Linked DNA regions of Homo sapiens: regions 1, 2, 3 and 5 are each reported to be linked to region 4. The links are microRNA targets in miRTarBase. Many come from high-throughput screens and were not tested one by one. Region 4 holds a microRNA gene; each other region holds the end of a gene's coding sequence.

The links. Region 4 holds the annotated microRNA hsa-miR-3910 (AAAGGCAUAAAACCAAGACA, at 3,135-3,154, opposite strand). A microRNA usually pairs through its seed, bases 2 to 8, with sites in the 3' UTR of a target mRNA and lowers its output. Matches are read on the target gene's strand: a 7mer-m8 pairs with bases 2 to 8, a 7mer-A1 pairs with bases 2 to 7 and ends in A, and an 8mer does both.
Region 1: miRTarBase lists ZNF460 as a target of hsa-miR-3910. The part of its 3' UTR that is shown has no 7-base or 8-base seed match.
Region 2: the mRNA of GTF2E1 is a reported target of hsa-miR-3910. Seed matches in the 3' UTR shown: 7mer-A1 at 3,861-3,867 and 7mer-A1 at 3,332-3,338.
Region 3: miRTarBase lists ZNF582 as a target of hsa-miR-3910. Seed matches in the 3' UTR shown: 7mer-m8 at 4,395-4,401 and 7mer-m8 at 3,393-3,399.
Region 5: miRTarBase lists CDKN1A as a target of hsa-miR-3910. Seed matches in the 3' UTR shown: 7mer-A1 at 4,398-4,404.

The regions. Positions count from the first base shown.
Region 1 is chr19:57,291,720-57,296,827 of GRCh38, forward strand. ZNF460 (zinc finger protein 460) reads left to right here. Exons shown (of 3, transcript NM_006635.4): 3 at 1-2,350. The coding sequence ends at 511. Among named protein-coding and RNA genes, the nearest start is that of ZNF460, 14 kb to the left of the region's middle.
Region 2 is chr3:120,780,766-120,785,873 of GRCh38, reverse strand. It overlaps GTF2E1 (general transcription factor IIE subunit 1), which reads right to left. Exons shown (of 5, transcript NM_005513.3): 5 at 2,805-4,831. The coding sequence ends at 4,404. Among named protein-coding and RNA genes, the nearest start is that of GTF2E1, 41 kb to the right of the region's middle. RefSeq lists an enhancer at 4,592-4,641.
Region 3 is chr19:56,379,395-56,384,502 of GRCh38, forward strand. It overlaps ZNF582 (zinc finger protein 582), which reads right to left. Exons shown (of 5, transcript NM_001320371.4): 5 at 3,357-5,108. The coding sequence ends at 4,469. It also overlaps the pseudogene ZNF542P. Among named protein-coding and RNA genes, the nearest start is that of ZNF582, 12 kb to the right of the region's middle. RefSeq lists an enhancer at 4,267-5,108.
Region 4 is chr9:91,633,143-91,638,250 of GRCh38, forward strand. MIR3910-2 (microRNA 3910-2) reads right to left here and starts at 3,203; the gene lies at 3,122-3,203. It overlaps MIR3910-1 (microRNA 3910-1), which reads left to right and starts at 3,109; the gene lies at 3,109-3,219.
Region 5 is chr6:36,685,182-36,690,268 of GRCh38, reverse strand. It overlaps CDKN1A (cyclin dependent kinase inhibitor 1A), which reads right to left. Exons shown (of 3, transcript NM_000389.5): 3 at 2,937-4,518. The coding sequence ends at 4,469. Among named protein-coding and RNA genes, the nearest start is that of CDKN1A, 9.0 kb to the right of the region's middle. RefSeq lists a silencer at 2,413-2,492.

The sequences.
Region 1 (5,108 bases), not on the chromosome of region 4:
GTGCAAAGAATGTGGGAAAGCCTTTAGCATTCGAAAAGACCTCATTCGACACTTCAACATCCACACTGGAGAGAAGCCCTATGAGTGTTTACAGTGTGGAAAGGCTTTTACCCGCATGTCAGGGCTCACAAGGCACCAGTGGATTCATACTGGAGAGAAGCCGTATGTATGCATCCAATGTGGGAAAGCCTTTTGTCGGACCACAAACCTGATTCGACACTTTAGCATCCACACTGGAGAGAAGCCCTATGAATGCGTGGAGTGCGGGAAGGCCTTCAACCGCAGGTCACCCCTCACAAGGCACCAGCGGATTCACACTGCAGAGAAGTCCCACGAACCCATCCAGAGTGGGAACGTTTCTTGTGAGAGCACAGATCTCATTCAACACTCCATCATCCACACTGAGAGTAGCCCAGTGAGTGCAGTGAATATGGAAACGCCTTCAATTGCCGCTCATTCCTCCTCACTCGACATCAACGGATTCATAGTGGAAGAAACCCTACCATTGTAACAGATGTGGAAAGACTTTTTACGTACACTTCAGTCAACATCCAAGAATTCCTATTAGCGAAATAGTTTTTTAATATAACCACTGAAGAAAATCTGTGGTGAGAGGAAACATCTTACCATCTGGTCATTCATACTGAAGAGAAACTCCATAAGTATCATCTCTGTGGGAAAACCTGTTTTAGATCATCATTTGTCATCTAAACAATTATGTTAGAAATTGACACAGCCAAGAGTCTTATTCTACATCTGATAATTCACCCATGAAAGAGACCCAGTGGTTACTGTGCACTTAGGAAAACCTTCAGCCACATCTTTCTTATTAGTTTACAGTGAAATGTTATCTCAGGGACATTCAAACAAAGGAGGAGGAGTCATAGGGAAGAGAAAGAAATGGAAGCACAGCTTCTTTCAGACTTCCCTGACAAGCCCATGGCAATTTGTCATCCCCTCCTTATTTTATTTGGGAGAGGGAAATGTTTCAGAAACAAAAGGGCCTCATCCCCTTTATTTTCCCTGTGTATACATTCACTGCTGTCCAGTGCTGTAGACAAACGGTTTGTTTGAAAACATTTTGTGAAAGCCTGCTTTGTTCCACAGCATTGTCTCCACTCTTGAGGAGCAGAAGCATATATCTTTATGAGAAAGATGGAGGCTTGAGTTATGAAATACTTTTACATTTAAGGAGATAAAGGATGTACATATGAATGGGCACATTTTACTGCACACTTCAGACGCTTTGACTTTTTTAAAAAAATTGTTTCTCCGTGTGTCTTTAACCACCCAGTACCATACTTTTTTCTTGATCTGGATCTACTTGTCAATTTCTTCTTTATTTTTCTGTAGGATGGAGATGATATTGTAGCTGTTTGTACATAATGTAATCCAGGGAGTCCTAATTCTTCCCTCTGATTGTGGTTTCTCAGCTTTTTTACTGCTCTTTAGAGAGAGTAAATAGTTCAAAATTCACCTCAACAATTTTCTAGAGGTCAATTTGGAACCAAAAATGAAATAAGACATGTAGCTAAAGTAAGTTAAAAGATTATGATAAACTCAGAAAATAAACACAGAGAAGGAATCTCATTTTTCAGTCTTACAGAAGATTGTGTGAAGGCTGACTATACATAAAGTGACTGGAATTTTAACAGGTGAACCTGCATATGTATATGCAGGTAGTTGTCACCATGGATTGAGTCCAGTCGTAGTAATTAATATGTTTAATCAGAATATTTTGGAATTTCTCTTTTGGTATTCTTTTTGTTTCTTTTATTGTTTTTAATTGACAATGTTTATGGGGTTTGGTGTGATATTTCAATACATGTGTGCTAAGAGTAATGATCAAATCAGGGTAATTAGCATATCCATCTCAATCATTTATCATTTCTTTGTGTTTAGAAACATTCACAGTCTGCTTTTCTAGCTATTTGAAAATATAAAATGTATTATTGCCAATTGTACTCATTCTGCAGTGCCACAGAACACTACAACTTATTCAAATGGAATCTTACTTGCTGTAATTTTGTATTTGTTAACCAATCTCTATCTGCCTCTCTGCTGTCCTTCCCAGCCTCTGGTTACCACCATTCTCAACCTTTTATGCTTGCATATGAGTAGAAACATGGAGTATTTCTCTTTCTGTGTCTAGCTTATTTCACTTAATGTCTTTCAAGCTCATTCATGTTGCTGTGAATGACAGGTTTATTTTTCATGGCTGAGTAGTATTCCATTGTGTATATATGCCATGTTTTCTTTCTTCATTCATCTGATAATGGACACTTAGACTGATTTCTTAGCTATTATGAATAGTGCTTCAATAAACATAGGAGTGTAGATCTCTCTTTGACGTATAGATATATTTGTTTTTGCATATATGCCCAGTAGTGGTATAGATCATTACCAGTGGATCATATGGTAGTTGTATTTTTAACTTTTGTTTATTTTTCATTTTTTAAAATGGGGTCTTGCTGTGTTATTCAGGCTGGTCTCAGACTCCTGGGCTCAAGCAGTCCTGCACCTCAGCCTCCTGAGTAGCTGGGACTACAGGCACACACCACCGTGCCTGGCTATAGTTTTAGATTTTTGAGGAACATTCATACTGTTTTCCATATGGCTATACTAATTAGCATTCCTACCAGCCATATATAAGAGTTCCCCCTTTTCCATGTTCTCAGCAGCATTTTTTATTTTTTATCTTTGGTAATAGCCATCCTAACTGAGGTGAAATTATATCTCATTGTGGTTTTGATTTGCATTTCCCTGATTAGTGATGTTGAGCATTTTTTCATATACTTGGCCATTTGTATGTCTCCTTTTGAGGGATGTCTATTCACCTTATTTACCCATTTTAAAATCAGATTTTTTATTTTTATTTTTTTTGCTATTGAGTTCCTTTTATATTCTGGATATTAATCCCTTTCAGATGAATAGTTTGCAAATATTTTATCCCACTCTACTAGTTGTCTCTTCATTCTGTTGTTTCCTTTGCTGTGCAGAAGTTTTTTAGTTTAATATAATCCCTTTGTTTATTTGTGCTTTTGTTACCTTGATTTTCAGGTATTCATAAAATCCTTGCCCAGACCAATATCCAGAAGCATTTCCCCTATGTTTTCTTCTGTAGTTTCATAGTTTTTGCTCTTACATTTAAGCTTTCAAACCATTTTGAGTTGATTATCCTGAGAGCATAGATTCAAATTGCCCTAAAAATACATTCCCAATTTTTGTTTTTGCTTTTTAATTATTTTTTAGAGACATAGTCTCACCACATTGCCCAGCTTGGTCCTGAACTCCTGGACTCAAGTGAGCCACAACTCAGCCTTCTGAGTAGCTAAGATTACAGGTATGAGCCAGCATACTTGGTGTTTTGAGTTGATTTTTGTGTATGGTGAGAGATGAGTCTACTTTCATTCTTCTGCATATGAATATCCAGTGTCCCAGCACCATTTATTGAAGAGACTGTCCTTTTCCCAGTGAATGTTCTTTGTGCCTTTGTTAGAAATCAGTTGGCTGTAAATGGGATTTATTCCTGGGCTCTCTGTTTTGTTCCATTGGTTTGTGTGGTTTTTAAAAAATACCTGAACCATGCTGTTTTGGTTACCATCACTTTGTAGTATATTTCAAGGTCAGGTAGTGTGATGACTCCCATTTTGTTCTTTTTGCTTAGGATTGCTTTGGATATTCAGTATCTTCTGTGATATCATGAATTTTAGGATTACTATTTCTATTTCTGTGAAAAATGTCATTGGTATTTTGTTAAGAGTGCATTGAATCTGTAGATCACTTGAGGTAGTATGTTCATTTTTTTTCATAAGCTATCTCTTACAGGAAAGTATGTTCATTTTTATAGTAACCATTCTAATCCATGACCATGGGATGTTTTTCCTTTTTTATGTGTGTCCTCTTTGATTTACTTCATCAGTGTTATATAGTTTTCCATGTATTCTTATTTTATTTTTGTTGAAGTATTGTAAATGGGATGGCTTTCTTGATTTCTTTTTCAGCTAATTCATTGTTGGTGTATAGAAATGCTGCTGATTTTTGCATGTTGATTTTATATCCTGCAAGTTCAGTGAATTTATCAGTCCTAAGATTTTTTTGGTGCCACTTTTGGAGTTTAGGGTTTTCTATATATTTGATCCTGTCATGTGCATACAGGGATAATTTGACTTCATGCTTCCTGATCTGCATGCCCTTTATTTCTTTGTCTTGCCTGATTACTCTGTCTCAGACCTTTTGTACTTTGTTAAAAGGTGTGAAAGTGGGCATACTTGTTTTGTTTCAGATTATAGAGAGAAAGCTTTCAGCACTTTCCCATTATGCATGATGTTAGCTGTGGGTATGTTACTTATTACCTTTATTATGTTGAGGTACGTTCTTTCTATTATTATTATAATTTTTTTTAATTTTTTTTTTGAGATGGAGTCTCGCTCTGTCGCCCAGCTGGAGTGCAGTGGCATGATCTCAGCTCACTGCAAGCTCCGCCTTCTGGGTTCACACCATTCTCCTGCCTCAGCCTCCCAAGTAGCTGGAACTACAGGTGCCCACCACCATGCCTGGCTAATTTTTTGTATTTTTAGTAGAGATGGGTTTTCACCATGTTAGCCAGGATGATCTTGATCTCCTGACCTCGTGATCCGCCCGCCTCGGCCTCCCAAAGTGCTGGGATTACAGGTGTAAGCCACCGCGGCCGGCCCATTCTTTCTATTATTATGTGTAATTTGTTAAGAGTTTTCATCATGAGGGGATATTGAATGTTACCAGAGGCTTTTTCTCCACCTATGGAGATAATCACATTTTTTGTTCTTCATTCTGTTGATTTATCATGTTTATTGTTTTGTGTATGTTGAACCCATTCTTGCATCCCTAGAATGAATTCCACTTGGTCATGGTAAACAATCTTTTTGATGTACTTTTGGATTTGGTTGGCTAGTATTTTGTTGAGGAGTTTTGCATTTATGTTCATCAGGAATATTGGCCTGTAGTTTTCTTTTGCATGTGTGTGTCCTTATCTGGTGCTTGTGTCATGGTAATGCTGGCTTGTGGAGTGAGTTTAGAATAATTCCCTCCTCTTCATTATTCTGGGAAAGTTTGAGAAGAATTCATAT
Region 2 (5,108 bases), not on the chromosome of region 4:
GCACACTTTGGGAGGCCGAGACAGGCAGATCACCTGAGGTCGGAGACCAGCCAGGCCAACAAGGTGAAACCCTGTCTCTACTAAAAATACAGAAATTGGCCAGGCATGGTGGCTCACACCTGTAATCCCAGCACTTTGGGAGGCCAAGGCGGGTGGATCACCTGTGGTCAGGAGTTTGAGGCTAGCCTGGCCAACATGGCAAAACCCCTTCTCTACTAAAAATATAAAAATTAGCTGAGCGTGGTGGTGCGCACCTGTAATCCCAGCTACTTGGGAGGCTGAGGCAGAAGAATCGCTTGAACCTGGGAGGTGGAGGTTGCAGTGAGCCGAGATCGCGCCATTGCACTCCAGCCTGGGCGACAAGAACGAAATTCTGTCTCAAAAAAAAAAAAAAACAAAACAGAAAGTAGCCAGGTGTGGGGGCACACACTTGTAATCCCAGCTACTCAGGAGGCTGAGGCACGAGAATTGCTTGAACCTGAGAGGCGGAGTGAGCTGAGATCATGCCACTGCACTCCAGCCTGGGCAAGAGTGAGACTGTTTCAAAAAAAAAAAAAAAAAACCACACACACACCCCAAATAGAGCTACCATTTAACTCAGCAATCCCATTACTGGGTATATACCCAAGGAAATGTAAGTCATTCTGCCATAAAAACACATGCCCATCACTGGTGGACTGGATAAAGAAAATGTGGTACATATACACCATGGAACACCACACAGTCATAAAAAAGAATGAAATCCTGTCTTTTGCAGCAATATGGATGGAGCTGGAGGCCATTATCCCAGGCAAATTAATGCAAGAATAGAAGACCAAACACCCCATGTTCTCACTTATAAGTGGTAACTAAACACTGAGTACACATGGACACAAAGAGGGCCTTCTTGAGGGTGGAAGGTGGGAGGAGGGTGAGGACTGAAAAACTACCTATCTGATACAATGCTTATTACCTGGGTGGCAAAATAATCTGTACACTAAACTCCATGACACGCAATTTACCTATACAGAAAACCTGCACGTCATATACCCCTGAGCCTAAAAGTTGGAAGAGATAAAGAATCACTCTGCATCCCACAAATATGTACAATTATTGTGTCAACTAAAAATAAGAGGAACATAGAAACAAAAATCCCCCTCATTGCCCCGCTCCCTTTGCTCACTACTGTAAAAACTTCAGGGAAGATCTGCTACACAAACTTGTGTTGATGGTACTAGGGGGAGTAAAGGACAGGTGGTGTAGAGGACAGATGGAAAACCAGGGAAGCAGAAAGGCGAAGCCAGAGGATACAAGCTCCCTGCCTACTCTCCCCGGTCCCCTACCACCTGCAAAAAAGAACTGTCATCTCCCAAAAGAAATGATACTAGAAGAAGTAGTCCAACATGTTAGGATAAAAAGTTCTATTTAAATCTTAAAGGACAGTGGGAAAGTTGGGACACTTGTTCAGCTGACACTTGAGATACACGAATATAGTCAACCGCATTCAGGGAAACCAAGTTCCTCCATCATCACTTATGGGCTGTGTGTGGTGGTGACTCTAGTTTTCCTGGGGTCAAGAAACACAGTGACTACATGTATCTACCAACCTTGGGTGTGAGCCTGCCCTTACTAGAGCTTCAGAGGCTAATCGGCAGGGCTCCCATTTTTGGTCCTTCTGTCACTGACTGTCTCTCCTCACCAGATTATTGTGCCACTCAAGAGACAAACCTATCTGATAAAGTAATATAAATTCTATTGAGTCTTATTAGATGTCACTGAAAGGGAGGTAGTTACCTATTAAATTATATCTTCCCATTGATTTTGAGTATAAATTTAGAGACGTTTATCCGAGAAAATGATAAACTCTGGATTTTTTCATTTTACTTAACTGAGGGTCTACTCACCCAAAAATCCTAGCATCAACCTAAAAAGACCTTGCTTTTGACACTCTACTATTTCTTTCATTAAATGTGTTTGATTCTTTTTCAAAATGAAAATATCTTTTTCATAATAATATATTAAGATCACTGTAATTCTCATCCCTAATTTATATATATACATTTATATATGTATACCTACCTCACAGATTATAAAAGATTGAATGAGTTAACATATATAAAGCACTTAAAATAGTGTCTGGCACACAGTTCACTATATGTTAGCTACTTTCTTCTTCACACACACACACCCCTAGAAAAACTGAATCCTATATTTAACACATTATGGATATCTTTTCCTCTCAATACATTCTTTTTTGGGGAGGGATGGGATCTCATTACATTACCCAGGCTAGCCTTGAACTCCTGGCTCAAACAATCTTCCTGCCTTGGCCTCCTGAGTACTTAGGACTAAATACAGATTTAGTGAGTATATCTATCTTTCTATTCTATTTCAAATACTGCTGCAATGAATACCTTTATTCTTACCTCCATATTCACTTGTGACATTTTCCCATAACACGAATTCTACATATACATGAACACACTTACAAAAAATAGTTTAAAAAATTAACTACATTTTAAAAATTAACATCTGATTACCATTTTATTTAAATTAACTTCTAGAACTATAAAAGTTTAAAAAACAATGTTTAAAAGCTGAAGAGCATTGCTTCTTGGTCTTTTGGCTAAGATCAAGTGTAAAAGTTGAATACTTTACGTATACAAGGTACAAAGGCATCTTATTGCACAAAAAGTTTAGATCCCATATGCATCTATCATTTGAAATATGACTAATAAAAAAGTCTTTAACATTTTTTTAATGGGAAGAATATTCATTTTAATATGCCCCAAGATGTTACAGAACTTAAAATGAACAAACTTCAGTCAGTATAAAACAGATTTATTGTCAACATTCAGTCATTAACACAACCCAGGTAAATGAAACATCACTCCATACAAGGCTCATATATTCTTTACATGTGTACTATAAAATGATAAATACTTAAAAATTACAATGCAAGGAAAAATATTGTAAGATATACAATTGTTACAGACCCTTGTGTGAAAGTTCTTTATTTTTAAAGTTCTGCCTTAGGGAAAATACCATGCTACATATCAGAACCCAAAATAAACTGTTTCCTGAGGTTACAATGCTCAATGGTATACTGGATGCACCCTAAAATACTGTGTCTGACAAAAATTAAAAGAGAGACAGCCTTCAATGATGTTTAGAAAGAGGGAGAGTGACAGAGAGAGAGAAGAGTAATCAATTATTCTGTTGATTTCTGCTGGAATGGCCTCATTAAACAATTTATAGCACTGACAAGAGGTCTGTACCCAAAGGGAACAAAACCAGGACCAGTCTCAGCTTTACATAAAGGATTTCCAAATCAGACTAACTGACACAGTTCTAAGGCACTGTTACCAATGCTTGTCACTCTTCAACCCTTCACAGAGACTTCTTGTCTTACGTCCATGTTTTTCTAATTTCTTCCTAAGGGTTTACCAATTATACTTCTGTTTTCTATCATCCTAAATCCAAACCAAAAGACATTAAGCAATACAATAAAATCTACCAGTCTGGTCAGTTCTAAAGACACAAATTCTGGTTTAGACATTAATCATAAGACTCAAGTATATCTCTCCCCCTTCCACACACGCTCCCACCTCCCCTTACATATTGATCCATCTCAATTTTGAGGAAATGCTCAAATTCTAAGCAAAATTTCAGGATTTTTTCCCCCAATCAGTGATTTGACTGTTGGCAAGCTGCTTTGGTGGGCAGCAGTATAAGAAATTGTTTGGAATGCCTGGCTAGAACAGATAAAATGGATGTGATCAGTGAATTATTGTAACCTATTGTAGTAAACAGATGGATGGGAAGGATTTACCTTATGAACTTCCCTCACTCATTTCAGAAGGGAGAAAATTATGTCTTAATAAGGCAAGAAAAAAATCAGATAAGAAAATACAGCACTTTGGGAGGCCGAGGCGGGTGGATCATGAGGTCAGGAGATCGAGATCATCCTGGCTAACATGGTGAAACCCTGCCTCTACTAAAAATACAAAAATTAGCCAGGCATGGTGGCAGGCACCTGTAATCCCAGCTACTCGGGAGGCTGAGGCAGGAGAATCGCTTGAACCCAGGAGGCAGAGGTTGCAGTGAGCCGAGATCACGCCATTGCACTCCAGCCTGGGGTACAAGAGTGAGACTTCATCTCCAAAAAAAAAAAAAAAAGAAAAGAAAATACAGTAAAATATTAATACTGTAGTGACAGCAAGGAAGGGTAGGATTCTCAGCACCCTACCTTGCTGGGAAAGTTTCTGGCATAAAAGTCAAACTCTCTACCATCAATCTTTGCACAAGGATGGACAGTTGCTTACATCAAGAGGGGCAGAAAGCCACTTAAATACTTTTCTTCAAAGATGAGACATTCCTTTTTGAACTGAGCATTAGAGAAAGGAGAAAGAATTAGGGAAAGCTCACTCAAAGAGGTCCTCAAACATGCGTTGTCCCATTGCTATATATGCTTCCTTTTCTTCTGGTGTCATCTGGGCCACTAGCTCTGGCCGTTGGCTCACTTCACTGTAGGAGAACGGACGGCCAGCCACCATGACAATGGGGTCATCTGCTACTTCTTCAAACTCGTCATCTTCCTCTTCATCCTCTTCTCGTTTATGCACAGCCACAGCTGCCGGACGGGGTGGAGAATCATCATCTGACTCACTGGTCTCGCTTTCTGAGTCACTGCCATTGGCAGCGGTCACTGGAGCAGCTGCCCCCACTGAACCAGCCATGGCAGAGGAAGTCTTTTTCTCGTGAATGAGCAGTGCTCGCATGACCTCTTCGTTGTCATCAGGCCCAGCATGGCCTTCCTCACGCTCCTGAAATGCGTCCATATCTATGCCCCCTGGGGAGTAAAACTCAGAAAGTCAATATCCTTAAATATAAATGGCATTTCTTTATAGCATATAGACAATATTTTAACATATATTTAAATAATACGATAAAATAACAGACTTCACTGGTTCCATTTTTGAGCTGCTATCCATAAAATATTCAAAATATTTCTTACAAACTGGAGCTTAAGTAGCATAATGGTCAAGTACATTGGCTTTAAGAGTATTATAGCATAGATTTGAATCCTGGTTCTTCTACACACAAGCATCTTGGGCAAGTTATTTAAT
Region 3 (5,108 bases), not on the chromosome of region 4:
TGCTTGAGTCCAGGAGTTCAAGGCTGCAGTGAGTTGTGATCACACCATTGCAGTCCAGCCAGGTTGACAGAATGAGACCCTGTCTCTTAAAAAAAAAAAAAAAAATCCTGGTGATGCTTTTCTGGATTAAAAAATAAAATAAAATAAAAATTGGCCTCACTACTCTAGCTTATTTGCATTTTCTAATAAATGTTCAGAGTCACCTTGTCAGTTCCTACCAAAAAGCCTGTCGGTATTATAATTGAGATTGCATGAAGTCTGTAGACAAACTTGAAGAGAATTGACACTTAACAGCAGTGACTTCCAGTCTGTAACCTTAGCATAAGTTCTATTTGTCTCCTTTAATTTTTCTCAGAAATACCTGTAGTTTTCTGTATAGAGATCTTGAATGTATTTTCTTAAGTTTATTAATAGACATTTTCACAATATGTAAATTCGTTTGTCTTTTACTTTTCCAGTTGTTTGCTACTTGTACATCAAAATAGCATTTTGTACATTTATCTTGCATCTTGTCTTGAACATTTCACTTATTCTTGGAGTTGTCATACAGATTTCTTAAATTTTTTTTTTTTCTTTTTTTTTTTTTTGAGACGGAGTCTTGCTCTGTCACCCAGGATGGAGTGCAGTGGCGCGATCTCGGCTCACTGCAAGCTCCGCCTCCCGGGTTCACACCATTCTCCTGCCTCAGCCTCCCGAGTAGCTGGGACTACAGGTGCCTGCCACCACGCCCAGCTAATTTTTTGTATTTTTAGTAGAGACGGGGTTTCACTATGTTAGCCAGGATGGTCTCTATGTCCTGACCTCGTGATCTGCCCACCTCGGCCTCCCAAAGTGCTGGGATTACAGGCATGAGCCACCGCGCCTGGCCTTAAGATTTTTTTCATAAGCAATCATGTCACGTGCAAATAGACAGTGTATTCATTTCTGGTCTGTGCTGTTCTTTTTTTTCTCATCTTATTGCAATTGCTGTGTGACCTCCAGGACAGTGTTGAATGAAAGTGATAAATGTAGGCACCCTTGTTTTGCTTTCAGTCTTAGGAGGAAAGACTTAGTGGGGAGGAAGTGGCAACTCTGAGTCAGGATGTAGACTTCTTAGCATATGCATTTGCACATCTTGCTCAAATCCCAGATTTCCCTATACCCTCTATGCTCCCTTTAAAACAATGCTTTCTTTCCACAGTATCTTTCCCCCAAGTCAATAATGGGTCAAATTTCAGCAGTCCCAAACTGGGGAAGTTCTGGGACTGCTGTGGTAAGAAATGGATTCAGACACCAAAGGAGCTGTAGGACCTGGCTAACATGTACAAGCAAGAACCAGAAGAGTATACCTGGGAGGAGATCCTGAGATTACTGCATCATTAGGTAGAATACAAAGTTGAATAGGGGAGAGTTTTTTGCTATGGGGTCACTGTATGACAGGATTAACACACTGGCAAGGGAAAAAGATGCTTCTAATGGATGCTGGGACAGTTTTTGAAGCTTGGAAAAAGCATTGGTTCTCATTAAATAAAATGAAGATAGCAGAATTGCCATGACAAATGAGGATGGGATCAAAAGAAGTGGATATACAAGGGAGAACAAGCGTCATGGAGATGGCCAATAGTAGCTGTCCCCTAGGCGAGGGCTGGCTGCAAGAGGTGCTGTTAAGGAACTGGGCTCTCTAGTTGCAATGGGAATGATAGGATCTCAGAATAATGGCAGCCAGGTGATAGCTCTTAGCATCAAACGCAAGGAGGGCCATAATTACCATATGGGTAGAAGGCTTAGAATAGAATCTGGGGAGATTGATCTTCAGAAATCTATGGTTCTGGCTCATAGCACATGAGTTTGCCAATGGCAAGTCATCTGCTTCCAATAAGAGTAAACTTATTGAGACAAGGGGTTGCTCCGTTGCCCAGGCTGGAGTACATGGCATGATCACAGCTCAACTGCAACCTTGAACTCCTGGGCTCAAATAATCCTCTCACCTCAGCCTCCCAAGTAGTTGGGACTACAGGCACATGCCACCACACCTGGCTAACTTTTTTGTTTCTTTGTAGAGATAGGGTCTCCCTTTGTTGCCCAGGCTGGTCTAGAATTCATGATATCAAGTGATCCTCCTGCCTCAGCCTCTGAGTGTTGGAATTACAGGCAGGAGTCATAGTGCCTGGCCCAAACTTAACTAAAAAACAGAGAAGGCAAGGTGCATTGGCTCACACCTGTAATCCCAGGACTTTGTGAGGCCAAAGTGGGAGAATTGCTTGAGTCCAGGAGTTTGAGACCATCCTGGGCAACATAAGAAAACCCTGTATCTACAAAATAATTTTTTAAAAATTAGCCTAGCGTGGTGGCACATGCCTGTGGTCCCAGCTGTTCAGGAAGCTGAGGTAGGAGGACTGCTTGAATGGGAGGTTGAGGCTTCAGTGAGCCATGGCTGTGCCACTGCACTCCAGTTTGAGATGCCATCTCAAAAAACAAAACAAAAAAACCAGACAGTAAATATAGGTGTTGTGGCCATATAGTCTCTGTGGCAACTACTCAGCTCTGCTGTAGTGAAACCAAAGCAGTCGTAGACCATAAATGCAATGTGTCACTCAGACTTTATAAAGCAGGTAGCGGGCTGGATTTGGTTTTTATACCCTGCACTAGGCAAAATGGGATATTATGTAAAGATAAAGGTATAATTCATAAATAGAGGGTTAGTAGTATGTCCCTGTAAGTCAAACAATATAAATTAAAAAGCGTAAATGTCTGGAAACTCAAGGTGTTGGCAACATTTTTTTAGGAAATTCTGATCCAGCATACCAAATTATATGAAAACATGGAGATTTTTACTATTGCAATCTAGTGGCTTAATGGACTTATTTAGAAACTTGTATCCAAAAATGCAGAATACATATTTTTTCAATGTTCATGGTATACAGAAATCAATCTTGTATTTAACCACACACACACACACACACACAGTCAAACTGGGTGGCACAGCGGCTCATGCCTGTAATCCCAGCACTTATAGGAAGTGCTGGGAGGCCGAGGCGGGTGGATCACAAAGGTCAGGAAATCCAGACCATCCTGGCCAACATGGTGAAACCTCATCTCTACTAAAAACACAAAAATTAGCTGGGCATGGTAGCGTGCACCTGTAGTCCCAGCTACTGGGGAGACTGGGGCAGGAGAATCGCTTGAACCCGGGAGGCAGAGGTTGTGCCACTGCACTGCAGCCTGGTGACAGAGCGAGACTCCATCTCCAAAAAAAGAGTAAAATTCAAAAAGTAGATAACTTCAGGCCACATTTACCAACCATAATAAAATTAAATTAGATATTATATCACTTAGGATGCTTTTGGCTGCGAATTTACAAAATATCCAACTAAAACTAACTGAGCAATCAAGTTTTATTTTTCTCAGATAACAAGGCATCAAAAAGGCAGTTCCAGAATTGGCCTAGTAGCTGAGTCTTCTCAGGCTCTGGGTCAGCTTCTCTGAGGTCCACTTTTTTCTCTTCTTGGTTCCAAGACAGCTGCAGCAGCTTCAGGCATCATGTTCTTATATAAAAATGTTTAAAAGCAGGAAGTGAGAGAGGAGGAAGTCTTCATGATAAACCTGTCTCTTCTGAATGAGGAAAATCTTTCCCAGAAGCCCCGGCAGATTCCACTGAGCAACACTGGGAGATACTGGCCATACTGTGCTGCACAGGAGACTGGAAAATTAGCATCTGATATTCTCAGAGTCCAAGGCAAGACACAGATGCTGCCAATAACAAGGGGAATTGGGTATGGCTGCTGGGATGACAACCAATGGTTGTCTGTGCCAGTCACATAAAACAATGTAACAATGTGGAAATTAAGAAATATTCTCCTAAATTTAGATTATTTCTGGATCAGAAAGAAACAAAAACTGAGATTATTGTAAGATGGTCTCTTTATTTCATCATTTTCTGTTACTTTCTTCTTTCACTGCCTGGATGTTTGGTAGACTTGAATAGCATGTTTAGTGCATATGAGTTTATCTTTCAGATTTTCATGTATATGCATGCATTCAAAGGCTATAAAAATTCCTCCAGTGTAGCTTTGGCTTTCCCCTTACCCTCACATCTCTTTGGCCACATTTCACATCTCTTGGCATGTTAAACTCTCAATTCATTCTTTTCATTACCATTTATGGTAATTGCATGATTTCTTTGTTAAGCAAATGATAATCTGGCTGTTTTTTTAACTTGTAAGAAAACTATAACTTTTGCTCTTGATAAAATTACTACACTGTGGTTAGAAAATGTGGTTCTGGAATGTGTTAGAAATAAAATTTCTCCCAACCTTTCCCAGCATTTTTGACAATTATGATCTGAACAATTTACATCCATAAAATTTTCTTTGATATGAATTTTCAGACTTAGGATAAAGGCTTACCTCTGAATGAAGGCATTGTCACTGGCATTACATTCTTCAAGTCTTTCTCCAAGAGGGAGAAGTAAGTCACAGTCACAATTAGCCTAGGCTAATGGGCTTTCCCCATTACTTCCATTCATATGGTTGCTTGCCAACATAAATTCTCTGATGATTAGTAAGGGGTAACTGCTGATGGAAGGCTTTTCTACATTTATTATATTCACATGTGTTTCTCTATTATGCATTCTCTGAGGTTGAACGGTAGTTGAATCATGACTCAAGGTCTTCTCACATTCCTTATATTCATAGGGCTTTTTCTCAGTGTGAATAACCTGATGATGAATCAATTGTGAGCAATGACTAAAAGCCTTCCCACATTCCTTACATTCATATGGCTTTTCACCTGTATGAATTCTGTAATGTACAGTAAGATGTGAGACCCGTTTGAAGGCCCTACCACATACCTTACATTGGTAGGGTTTCTCTCCAGTGTGAATTCTCTGATGTTGCTTGAGTTGTGAGCTCACTCTAAAGGCCTTTCCACATACTTTGCACTCATAGGGTTTCTCACCGGTATGAATTCTCTGATGTCGTATAAGAGTTGAGCCTTGATTAAAAGCCTTCCCACATTCCTTACATTCATAGAGTTTCCTGCCAGTATGAACAGTCTGATGTTGAATCAACTGAGAACGATGACTAAAGGTTTTCCCACATTCCTTGCATGCATAGGGTTTTTCACCAGTA
Region 4 (5,108 bases):
AAGAAAGGGGAGGGGAGAGAAAAAGAATCCTCCCACTTCTGTAAACGTAGGTTTGCTGTATTAGAAATCCTGGTTCCCATTGGGCAGTGCTTCTGTCCAGGAGCCAAGTAAGGATTCTGCTGCACCTGCAGCTGCAAATGCCACATGGGCACTTTGGGCTGCTCTTACCTGTGAGCCCACACGTGGTGAAAAGACTAACTGCATGATGGACTAATTGACCCTGACTGTCATGAGAAGATGGTGCTGCCACAAGTGTGAATGGGAGGAGAAGATCTGGAATGCAGGGAGTCAGTGGACCTCTCTTGAGGCTTCTGTGTGGCAAACAAGAAATTGCAGCCATTCTGAGCTTCAATGAGAGTAGGTAGAAAGGGGTTGCTGTGCTGGATAGTGAAAAGCCAAGATGACCATCTGAAGGTCAGTCAAAGGCTTCTTGTCAAGAAGCTTCCAGGTTTCCTGATGAGATGTAGCTTGAGAGTCACTTCCTTTCCAATGGACAAAGTGATGGAACAAGTGACCTATTGTAGAATTAGTCTGAGGGTTTCACCTACATTTGCCATTATCCTGGCACACCCTCTCCATCTCAGGGCTGCGCCACCTTTTTGTGTCTGTCTGATACAGGCTAATTGCTCTCTGTGTACATAGGCAGAACAGGTTACTGTAACAAGTAGAGACTGCTATGGAGATTTCATTAAGGTTGACACATTCATTTCAACTGGCCAGGAGCGTCAGACCATATCCCAGAACACTCAGGCATTCTCAAGTACTAACAAATAATCCCTGTAAATCACTCACTTCCACAAAAGTTTAAAATAAAAATAGAGGTAGAGGAATCTTTCTCCAACTTTTTCCTGATGCTCTTTTCTATTCTAGTGTGATCCTGCTCTATGTTTTCCAATCTCATCATTCTTGTTCATTGCTGGTCCACTCAGTCCTTTTAAGTCAACAGTTATAAGTGTGCTTACATTCTATTAGAATGAGATCTGATGACAGGGCTTATCTAAGGCTGAAGTCCCTCAAGGACTTCCCTTCCCCAATCTCTCTCACACATCAATAAGAGCCGCAGGAGTGGCTTTATTATGTGAATTTATTGTGCCTTCTCTTGAAGAATATCATCCAATGCTGTTTTAAAATTGTATCTTTCAAATGCCATTTGAAATGGTTATAAGGCATAGAACAATATAAGCTATGGCATTTGCTAATAAGCATTAGCATGGAGCCATATGCTCCCAAAATATATTACACTTTCCACAAAGAAGTCAGAGACAGAGTTTATCAAGGATAGATACCATACTTCTTTATTCCCTAATAGCTATAGCTATATCCTTAGGGTTCTATGCTATTTTTATTTTGAAACTCTTAAATATGCAGTCTATTTCATCCCATAAACATATTAAAGACTAAATTTACCACAGGTTGTCAGACTAGAAAAAGATGAATGAGACTCTCTAAAGGCAGGCAAGCTCACTAAAAAAATATTACCCAAATGAAAACTCTGGGCAACAGAATAGTAAAGCAACACTCTTTAATGTTACTTGATCATTTGGTCACTAATTCCAGAGGATATTTGGTAAAATGTTCAACAGATAATCTGTTAAATGAGATGAAAGCCTGGGTTTGAGAAATAAAAGTGCTCTCTAAAGTTGTTTGAGTGGAAACTGTAGGGAAATAATGAGAGAGAGAGAGAGAAGAAGAAGAAGAAAAGAAGAAGAAGAAGGAGAAGGAGAAGGAGAAGAAGAAGAAGAAGAAGAAGAAGAAGAAGAAGAAGAAGAAGAAGAAGAAGAAGAAGAAGAAGAAGAAGGAGAAAAAGAAGAAAAAGAGGAGAAGAAGAAGAAGTAGCAGAGGAGGGGAGGAGGAGAAGGAAGAGGCAGAGGAGGAAGAGGCGGAGGAGGAGGAAGAGGAGGGGGAGGAAGAAGAGGAGGGGGAGGAAGAGGAGGAGGAGGAGGAGAAAGAGATTACATGCCTGTAATCCTAGCACTTTGGGAGGCCGAGGCGGGTGGACTGCCTGAGCTCAGGAGTTTGAGACCAGCCTAGGCAACACGGTGAAACCCCGTCTCTACTAAAATACAAAAAAATTAGCCGGGCATGGCGGTGTGCACCTGTAATCCCAGTTACTTGGGAGGCTGAGGCAGGAGAATTGCTTGAACCCAGGAAGCGGAGGTTGCAGTAAGCCAAGATTGCGCCATTGCACTTCAGCCTGGGCAACAGAGCAAGACTCCGTCTCAAAAAAAAAAAAAAATTGAATATTTTACCTCGTCTTAAGAGTTTCATGTCAATCTGGCCTTTATCCCTTTAAAAAGGGTCTTTCTTTTTTTTTTTTTAACTTCTCTCTGGGAGTTTCCAGAAACCTCTTTTTTCCTTTGGTGCTCATAAATTTAATGAGCATGTATATCAGTTGGGGCCATTTCTCATTCACTGCACTCAGGAATCAGCATGCCCTTTCAATAGGGGATTCATATCATTCAGCCCTGGGAATTTCCTTTAATTTTTTAAGAAATATAATTTTGGGCCAGGAGTAGCGGCTTATGCCTGTAATCCCAACACTTTGGGAGGTCGAGATAGGTGGATCACTTGAGGGCAGGAGTTCGAGACCAGCCTGGCCAACATGGCAAAACCTGTCTCTACTAAAAATACAAAAATTAGCTGGGCATGGTGGCAGGTGCCTGTGATCCCAGCTACTCAGGAGGCTGAGACAGGAGAATCCCTTGAACCCAGGAGGCGGAGGTTGCAGTGAGCCAATATCACGCCATTGCACTCCAGCCTGGGTGACAGGAGCAAAACTCCATCTCAACAAAAAATAAATAAATAAATATAATTTTGTTCTCTTAATTTTCTCTGTTCACTCTTTCTGAAAAGCCTGATGAATTGGTTTTCTATACTTCCTTTGCTTCTCTAATATTTTCCTTCTTTTTGCTCTGACTCTAAGGAGCTCATTGGATTTTCCAGGCCTTCTATTGAAATTTTTTTTAAATCCTAATTTTTCTTTATTAAAGATCTCAGTTTTTTTGTCACATTTTTGTAACATCTTGCTCTTGTTATCTAGATATGTTTCCAAAATCTCTTTTAATTCATCAATTAAGGGGATTTTTAATGTCTTCGGATTCTCTTCTTCTTTTGCTGTCAGTTTTTCTGTTGCTTGTCTTGGTTTTATGCCTTTTATATCAAGGCACATAAAAGGCATAAAACCAAGACAAGCAACAAAAAAAGGATTGATCACAGAAGTTTCTCCTTATGTGCCAATTGGTCTTCAGTTGCTCAGTTCTAGTTAAATCAAAAGACCAGGGTGGCTGGTGTGGTTTCCTCTGCTGTTGAGAACATTAGTCTGTTTTCCATCAGTCTCACCACTGAATGGGAATTCTTGCTGGATGCTCTGGGCAGGGCAGGGCATGACAGGGCAAATAGACTGGTGGGCTTTCTTTGGGTAAGCAGAAAAGGAACTGGCATTGACACTGGGCTCTCCAAGAGTCAAAATGAGAAAGACATGGTACACAGACTCCCAGACTAGAATACATATTATTTTCCAATTATGTTTTAGCATAATTTCTTTAAAACAGAGCCCTCTGTTCTTTGGTGGGAGTAGCATCCTATCCAATTTTATTATTGCCATTGAAAAGAAATATAATTTTAAATAAGTAGTTATCATTGCTATTCTAATTTGTAGGTAACACAGTATAATAGAATTAGCTATCTAATTTACAAGTTACTGAATAATATGATTTTTAAAAGGAAACATATCAAAAGATGTGAAAGAAAAGAAAGAAAATTTTAAAATAAAGCAACATAAACAGAAAACATAAAATAAGACTGAATAAATAGATAACACATATGAGTTATCATAATAATTATAAATGGGTTAAATTCATCTAACATGATTCAAAACAATTTTAGAATTATCCATCTTGGGTTCAAAACCAAAGTTTGTCGACAAGTATTTTACTTAAATTTACTATACTATCTGTTAGGCTACTGTCTCCCAGCTTCAAGCCCATCCTTCTACCTTCAGTATATGAGGCTGGGGCAGGAGCTCTGCAAACACATTTATGCTCTATCAATAGAAGGCACTAAAGGGATGACTGAAGCCTGGAGTAGAAAGAAAAAAATGTTTTACTTTTTCATTCTGAGAGTGTAATTTGTTCCACCATAAGTAGTTTGTTCCTGAATGTTCTCCCAACATTCCCCAAACCAGTCTCACTCCCCTGTAAAACACAGACACAGACACACACACACACACACACACACACACACACACACACTTTGAAATGCCAGCATTTGTTCTTTTGTTTTCTGCATCAGGTCCCTAAAATGGCATTTAAAAGATAAGCTGGGCAGACACCTCTCCTCAGAGGTCTAGGCCCCAGACTCAAGGGGTCCCCTCCTCTGAGATTTTAAGTTTTAAGAAGTGCAGCTTCTTTCCTTTGTTTTCCAGGTTCTATGGGTGGTAGCTGCTTCCAGCACTTGTTACTTCCATGATACTTAGAGTTCTCTTTGTTTCCTTTCAATTACCTGATAAACTTTATTCCTACTTAACAAGACAGTGCTGTCTTATCTTCTAAATGTCATTGTAGGGACCTGATGCAGAAAACCAAAGAACAAAGACTCAAGTAACTTCCAGCTTCCTATGTGTAGAAGTGAAAGAGGTGAATAAGTAGACTAATCCAGAGATATGAATTTGCAGGCTGGGAGCAGGGATTGATCCCAGAAGTTTAACATGATAGAGAGTATTGATATGATACATTATGTGGCTTGAACAGGATAGAAAAGAAGTAAATCAAAGCCAAGAATCAGCTGACAGACTGGAGAAAACTTCAGGAGTTTAGGGTGATGAGGTTTGCTGAATATTAAATTCTGGCATGGTGAAGTAAGTAAGAGGAAGAACAGATAGAAAGGTGTTTGCAGCCTATGGACAGTTCAGTGTTGAAGCGGTCCAGGAAATGACAGGATCAAAGCTGTGGAATTAGAGTTGAGATGGAGGCGAAGGCCAGTAAAGACAAGGAGATTGTTCTACTTAAAAATTTAGCGGCTTAAAATGACAGTGATATTTTGCAATTTTGTGAGTGAAGAATTCAAGGATTAAACTGGGCAATTCCTCTGGTCTATGTGTCAGTCACTTG
Region 5 (5,087 bases), not on the chromosome of region 4:
TGCAGCAGTGGTGTCCTTAGGGCAAGAGAGGTGAGCATTTAATGAGAGTCTTGCTTGACTTAACCACAAAAGATCAAGGTGAGTGAGCAGAGGCTGATGTCAGCTGCCGAGACAGAAAATCGCAATCTCTTACCTAGTTTCCAGCTTTGAGCCAGTTCTGACCCAGGACGCACTGATGGAAGAGAAAGATCCGTAATGCCACTATAAACATATAAAATAAACGTTTCCTTGATTCTTCCCGAAAGCACCCTCTGGCTATTTACCGGAATAGCTGTACAGTGTGGAACTGGGAATAACCAGATCATTTGAGGTCTGTTAGATAAAGGGTTTGAGCTTTCACTGCTTCTAGATGACCCAAAACACCATTATAGCCTCCTTTCAGAGAGGGGGACATAGAAGGCCAGATGGTAATAGAGTCCTAGCCAAGCTCATCTCCCAGTGAGTCTGTGGACCTACTCTATGGTTATTTCCTAGCCCTTGAGTACAAATTGGGATGCATAGCTTCACAGATAGTAGAACTCTCACATTCTGCCACATTCTCACGTTCTCTGTCATCTGTAGAATAAGAGCCATTATAGAAAGAAAGACCAAGTAGAAGTCTCTAAAATTATCCCGCTGGTCAAGGTAGTAAATCAGAAGCAATAGCATATCCCAGGTGGGTAGAAATTAGTGATTCCCTCAGAGACTTAAAGGATACTGAGGTGGTCCCTATAGTATCTCCATAGGATCCACCACATACTGCCCCTGTAAAAACCCACTGAAGCATGGTGATTGATGATTATCCACGGGGCAGCCCTAATCACAGCCATGATCAGATACCGTATCCTTACTAGAATAGTCTACACAGCCTCTGATGGTAAGAAGCCAATACTATGACAAGTGTGTTCTTTTCAATCCGTATCAGGAAAGGGGATCAAAAGTGGTTCACATCCACTTTCCCTACAACAATTTAGAGATCTATCAAATCATTAAAGTTTTAAGTGGTCAAATAAACTGGGGCATGCTGGGTCATTCCCTCTGTGGTAAAGGACAACTTAGTATATCTTGCACCTCTTACCATTTTTTTTTCTTTTTTTTAAATTATACTTTAAGTTCTAGGGTACATGAGCACAATGTGCAGGTTTGATACATAGGTATACATGTGCCATGTTGGTTTGCTGCACCCATCAACTCATCATTTACATTAGGTATTTCTCCTAATGCTATCCCTCCCCCAGGCCCCCACCCCCCTCTTACCACTTTTTAATTTGGGTTTCAGAGGCAGTGTACTAAAGATCACTCCAGCCCATTTATTGGATGATTTAGTAAGCTGCCATGTTTAAGCAGCGGCCGGAGCAAGAGAGGGCTCTGAAACAGGTGCAGGCTATGGGACAAGCACTTGGGTCACACGCCCCAGTGTATTCCCTGGTCCTGGACTTTTATCTGTGGATAAGTAGACAGTTGTGAAGTCCCTGGAAGTCCCCTCTGGCGGGGAGAGTCTCGTTTCAGAACTCTATGATTCTAGTAGAAAGCTCTGCCCTGTGCAGTAGAGAATTATTCCACATTTGAAAAGTAGTTCTGGGCCAAATTGCAGTGTTGGGAGCAAATAAATGATTATTGTTTTAAGCCACTCAGTCTTGGGGTGGTTAATTATGAATAGACAACCAGAAGATGCATGCAACAGCACCTTGTTTTTTGTAATGTTGGATAACTTTCCACTATATAAATATACCACAATTTGCATATCTATTCTGTTATGGACATTTCAGTTATTTCTAGCTTGGGTCTGTTAATAATAATGCTGCTGGAAGCATTCTTTTGGTTTTTTTCTTTTTGAGGGAGACAGACAAGGTCTCACTCTGTTGCCCAGGCTGGAGTGCAGTGGTGCAGTCAGGGCTCACTGCAGCCTCGACTTCCCAAGCTCCTCAAGTGATCCTCCCACCTCAGCCTCCCAGGTAGCTGGGACTACAGGCACGCTCCACCACGCCTGGCTATTTTTTTTTTTTTTTTTTTTGTAGAGATAAGAGTCTCGCTATGTTGCCCAAACTGGTCTCACACTCTTGGGCTCAAGCCGTCCTCCTGCCTTAGCCTCCCAAAGTGCTGGGATTATAGGTGTGAGCCACTGTGTAGAACATTCTTATGCCTTTTTCAGTGGAAATATGAACTCATTTCTCTCGAGAACATGTCCAGGAATAGAATTACTGGGTCATGAGGTAGCCATGAAGGTAGGCATCTTTAGAAGATATTACCAAACAGTTTTTTATTTATGTATTTATTTGAGATGAATCTCACTGTCACCCTGGAAGAGGCTGGAGTACAGTGGTATGATCTCAGCTGACTGCAACCTCTGCCTCCTGGGTTCAAGTGATCCTCCCACCTCAGCCTTCCAAGTAGCTGGGATTACAAGCGTGCACCACCATGCCCAGCTAATTTTTGTATTTTTAGTAGAGATTTCACCATGTTGGCCAGGCTGGTCTTGAACCCTTGGCCTCAAGTGATCTCCTGCCTCAGCCTCCCGAAGCACTGGGATTCTAGGTGTGAGCCACTGCGCCCGGCCCAAACAGTTTTTTTAAATAAGAGATCCAGTTGCTCCATAACCTTGCCAATGCTTGGCACTGTCAGTCTTTTTTAATCATTCTGGTAAGTGTATGGTGGTATCTTATTGTGGTATCTTAATTTGCATTTATCTGATGAATAATGATGTTAAGCTATAATATATTCTTTACAAAAAGATTACACAACAAACCAAAATATTGACATTGGTGATCTTTGCAGAGGTGTGACAGTAGTTTTTGTTTTGCTGTTGTTTTTTGCAGCAGTCTTTCTGTTTGCTAAGTTTTCTGCATTCTCTAAATTTAAATGCTTAATTTTTAAAATTATTTAATTATGAAATCCTTCCCAAAAGCCCATTTATTTGTTCTTATAAGGTATAATAACCACAATAGTAATATTACAAGTAAAGTCACTAAGAATCATTTATTGAGCACCTGCTGTATATTCAGCATTGTGGGAGGAGCTGTGAAAGACACAGAACAGTACAGGGTGTGGTCCCTGCCCTCGAGAGGTTTACAGTCTAGGTGGAGAAACGGGAACCAGGACACATGGGGAGCCGAGAGAAAACAGTCCAGGCCAGTATGTTACAGGAGCTGGAAGGTGTTTGGGGTCAGACCCCAATACTCCAAGTACACTAAGCACTTCAGTGCCTCCAGGGGCTCAACGTTAGTGCCAGGAAAGACAACTACTCCCAGCCCCATATGAGCCCACGTGGCATGCCCTGTCCATAGCCTCTACTGCCACCATCTTAAAATGTCTGACTCCTTGTTCCGCTGCTAATCAAAGTGCAATGAACTGGGGAGGGATGGGGTGGATGAGGAAGGTCGCTGGACGATTTGAGGGGCCAGTGTCTCCCTCCTAGAAAGATCTACTCCCCCATCATATACCCCTAACACAGAGATAACCCCACTCAAGGGGGCCTGTGCCACCACATGGGACCCTCACCCCCACAGCTAGAGGAGGGGGCGGTCGCTGCTTGAGCTGCCTGAGGTAGAACTAGGGTGCCCTTCTTCTTGTGTGTCCCTTCCCCTTCCAGTCCATTGAGCTGGGGGTGGGGGTGGGACAGGCACCTCAGAGCCACCTGGAGCTGAGAGGGTACTGAAGGGAAAGGACAAGGGGGAGGGACAGCAGCAGAGGGGAATTGCAGAGCCCAGCTGGAGAAAAAGGGTAGCTGGGGCTCCTCAAAAGGTACAGGGGAGCCAAAGAGGGAAAAGGCTCAACACTGAGACGGGCTCCCCAGTGCAGGTCAGAGGGGCCATGAGGGCAGGCGGGGTGGTCTGCTCCAGGACCCCACCTTCCCCCTGCCTTCACAAGACAGAGGGGGGTATCAAGAGCCAGGAGGGTACCAGGTCCCCAGCTCAGCCCTAGGCTGTGCTCACTTCAGGGTCACCCTGCCCAACCTTAGAGGAGGTGAGGGGACTCCAAAGTTTTTGATGATGCCCCCACTCGGTGAGGCCCCTTCAAAGTGCCATCTGTTTACTTCTCAAATGAAAAAGAATTCAGGTCTGAGTGTCCAGGAAAGGGGGTGAATTTCATAACCGCCTGTGACAGCGATGGGAAGGAGCCACACCCCTCCAGAGGGTACCACCCAGCGGACAAGTGGGGAGGAGGAAGTAGCTGGCATGAAGCCGGCCCACCCAACCTCCGGGAGAGAGGAAAAGGAGAACACGGGATGAGGAGGCTTTAAATAGTATTTCATAAAATAAAAATGCCCAGCACTCTTAGGAACCTCTCATTCAACCGCCTAGTTTTTGTTTAAATAATTCTAATGCCAGAGGCTGGGGGGCAGGGGGCGGCCAGGGTATGTACATGAGGAGGTGTTTAAATTAAAACACAAATAATAATTAAGACACACAAACTGAGACTAAGGCAGAAGATGTAGAGCGGGCCTTTGAGGCCCTCGCGCTTCCAGGACTGCAGGCTTCCTGTGGGCGGATTAGGGCTTCCTCTTGGAGAAGATCAGCCGGCGTTTGGAGTGGTAGAAATCTGAGGAGAGACAGCAGAAGTCAGCCAGGCCAAGAAGAAGAGGACGCGGCGGAGCTGCCCAACTGAGGAAGACAGTGGGGGGCCAGGACACCCTTCCCTGGGGCCAATGGGGCCGACTGCTGAGAACAGGAAGAACTCGGGGAACGTCCACTCTGTCTCTTGAGGGGTATTATGGAGTGTCCCACCATGCTTCACAGATGTGATTTTATCCATCACCGCACCCGCACCCATGGGTCTGCTCTAAGTCAAGCTGCCCAGCAGAGGAACCACTACTAGCTCTGTGTGCTTGTTTAAACAGACTACAATCAAATAAAATGAACAATTCAGTTCCTCAGTCACATGAGCTGTGTGTCAAATGCACAACAGCCGTATGTGGCTCGTGGCCCCTGTACCGGACACTCCCATCCCTGCAGAGTTACTGGACAGTGCTGATCTAGGGATTCTGTTACAAAATCCATGAAAGTGTTCAGCACAATGCCGGGCCCATATAAACGTCAGTAGTTGTTGTTATTATAATTAGTCTTGACCCAACGGCAAATTCACTTTGAGACCTTAGATAAATCACTCTA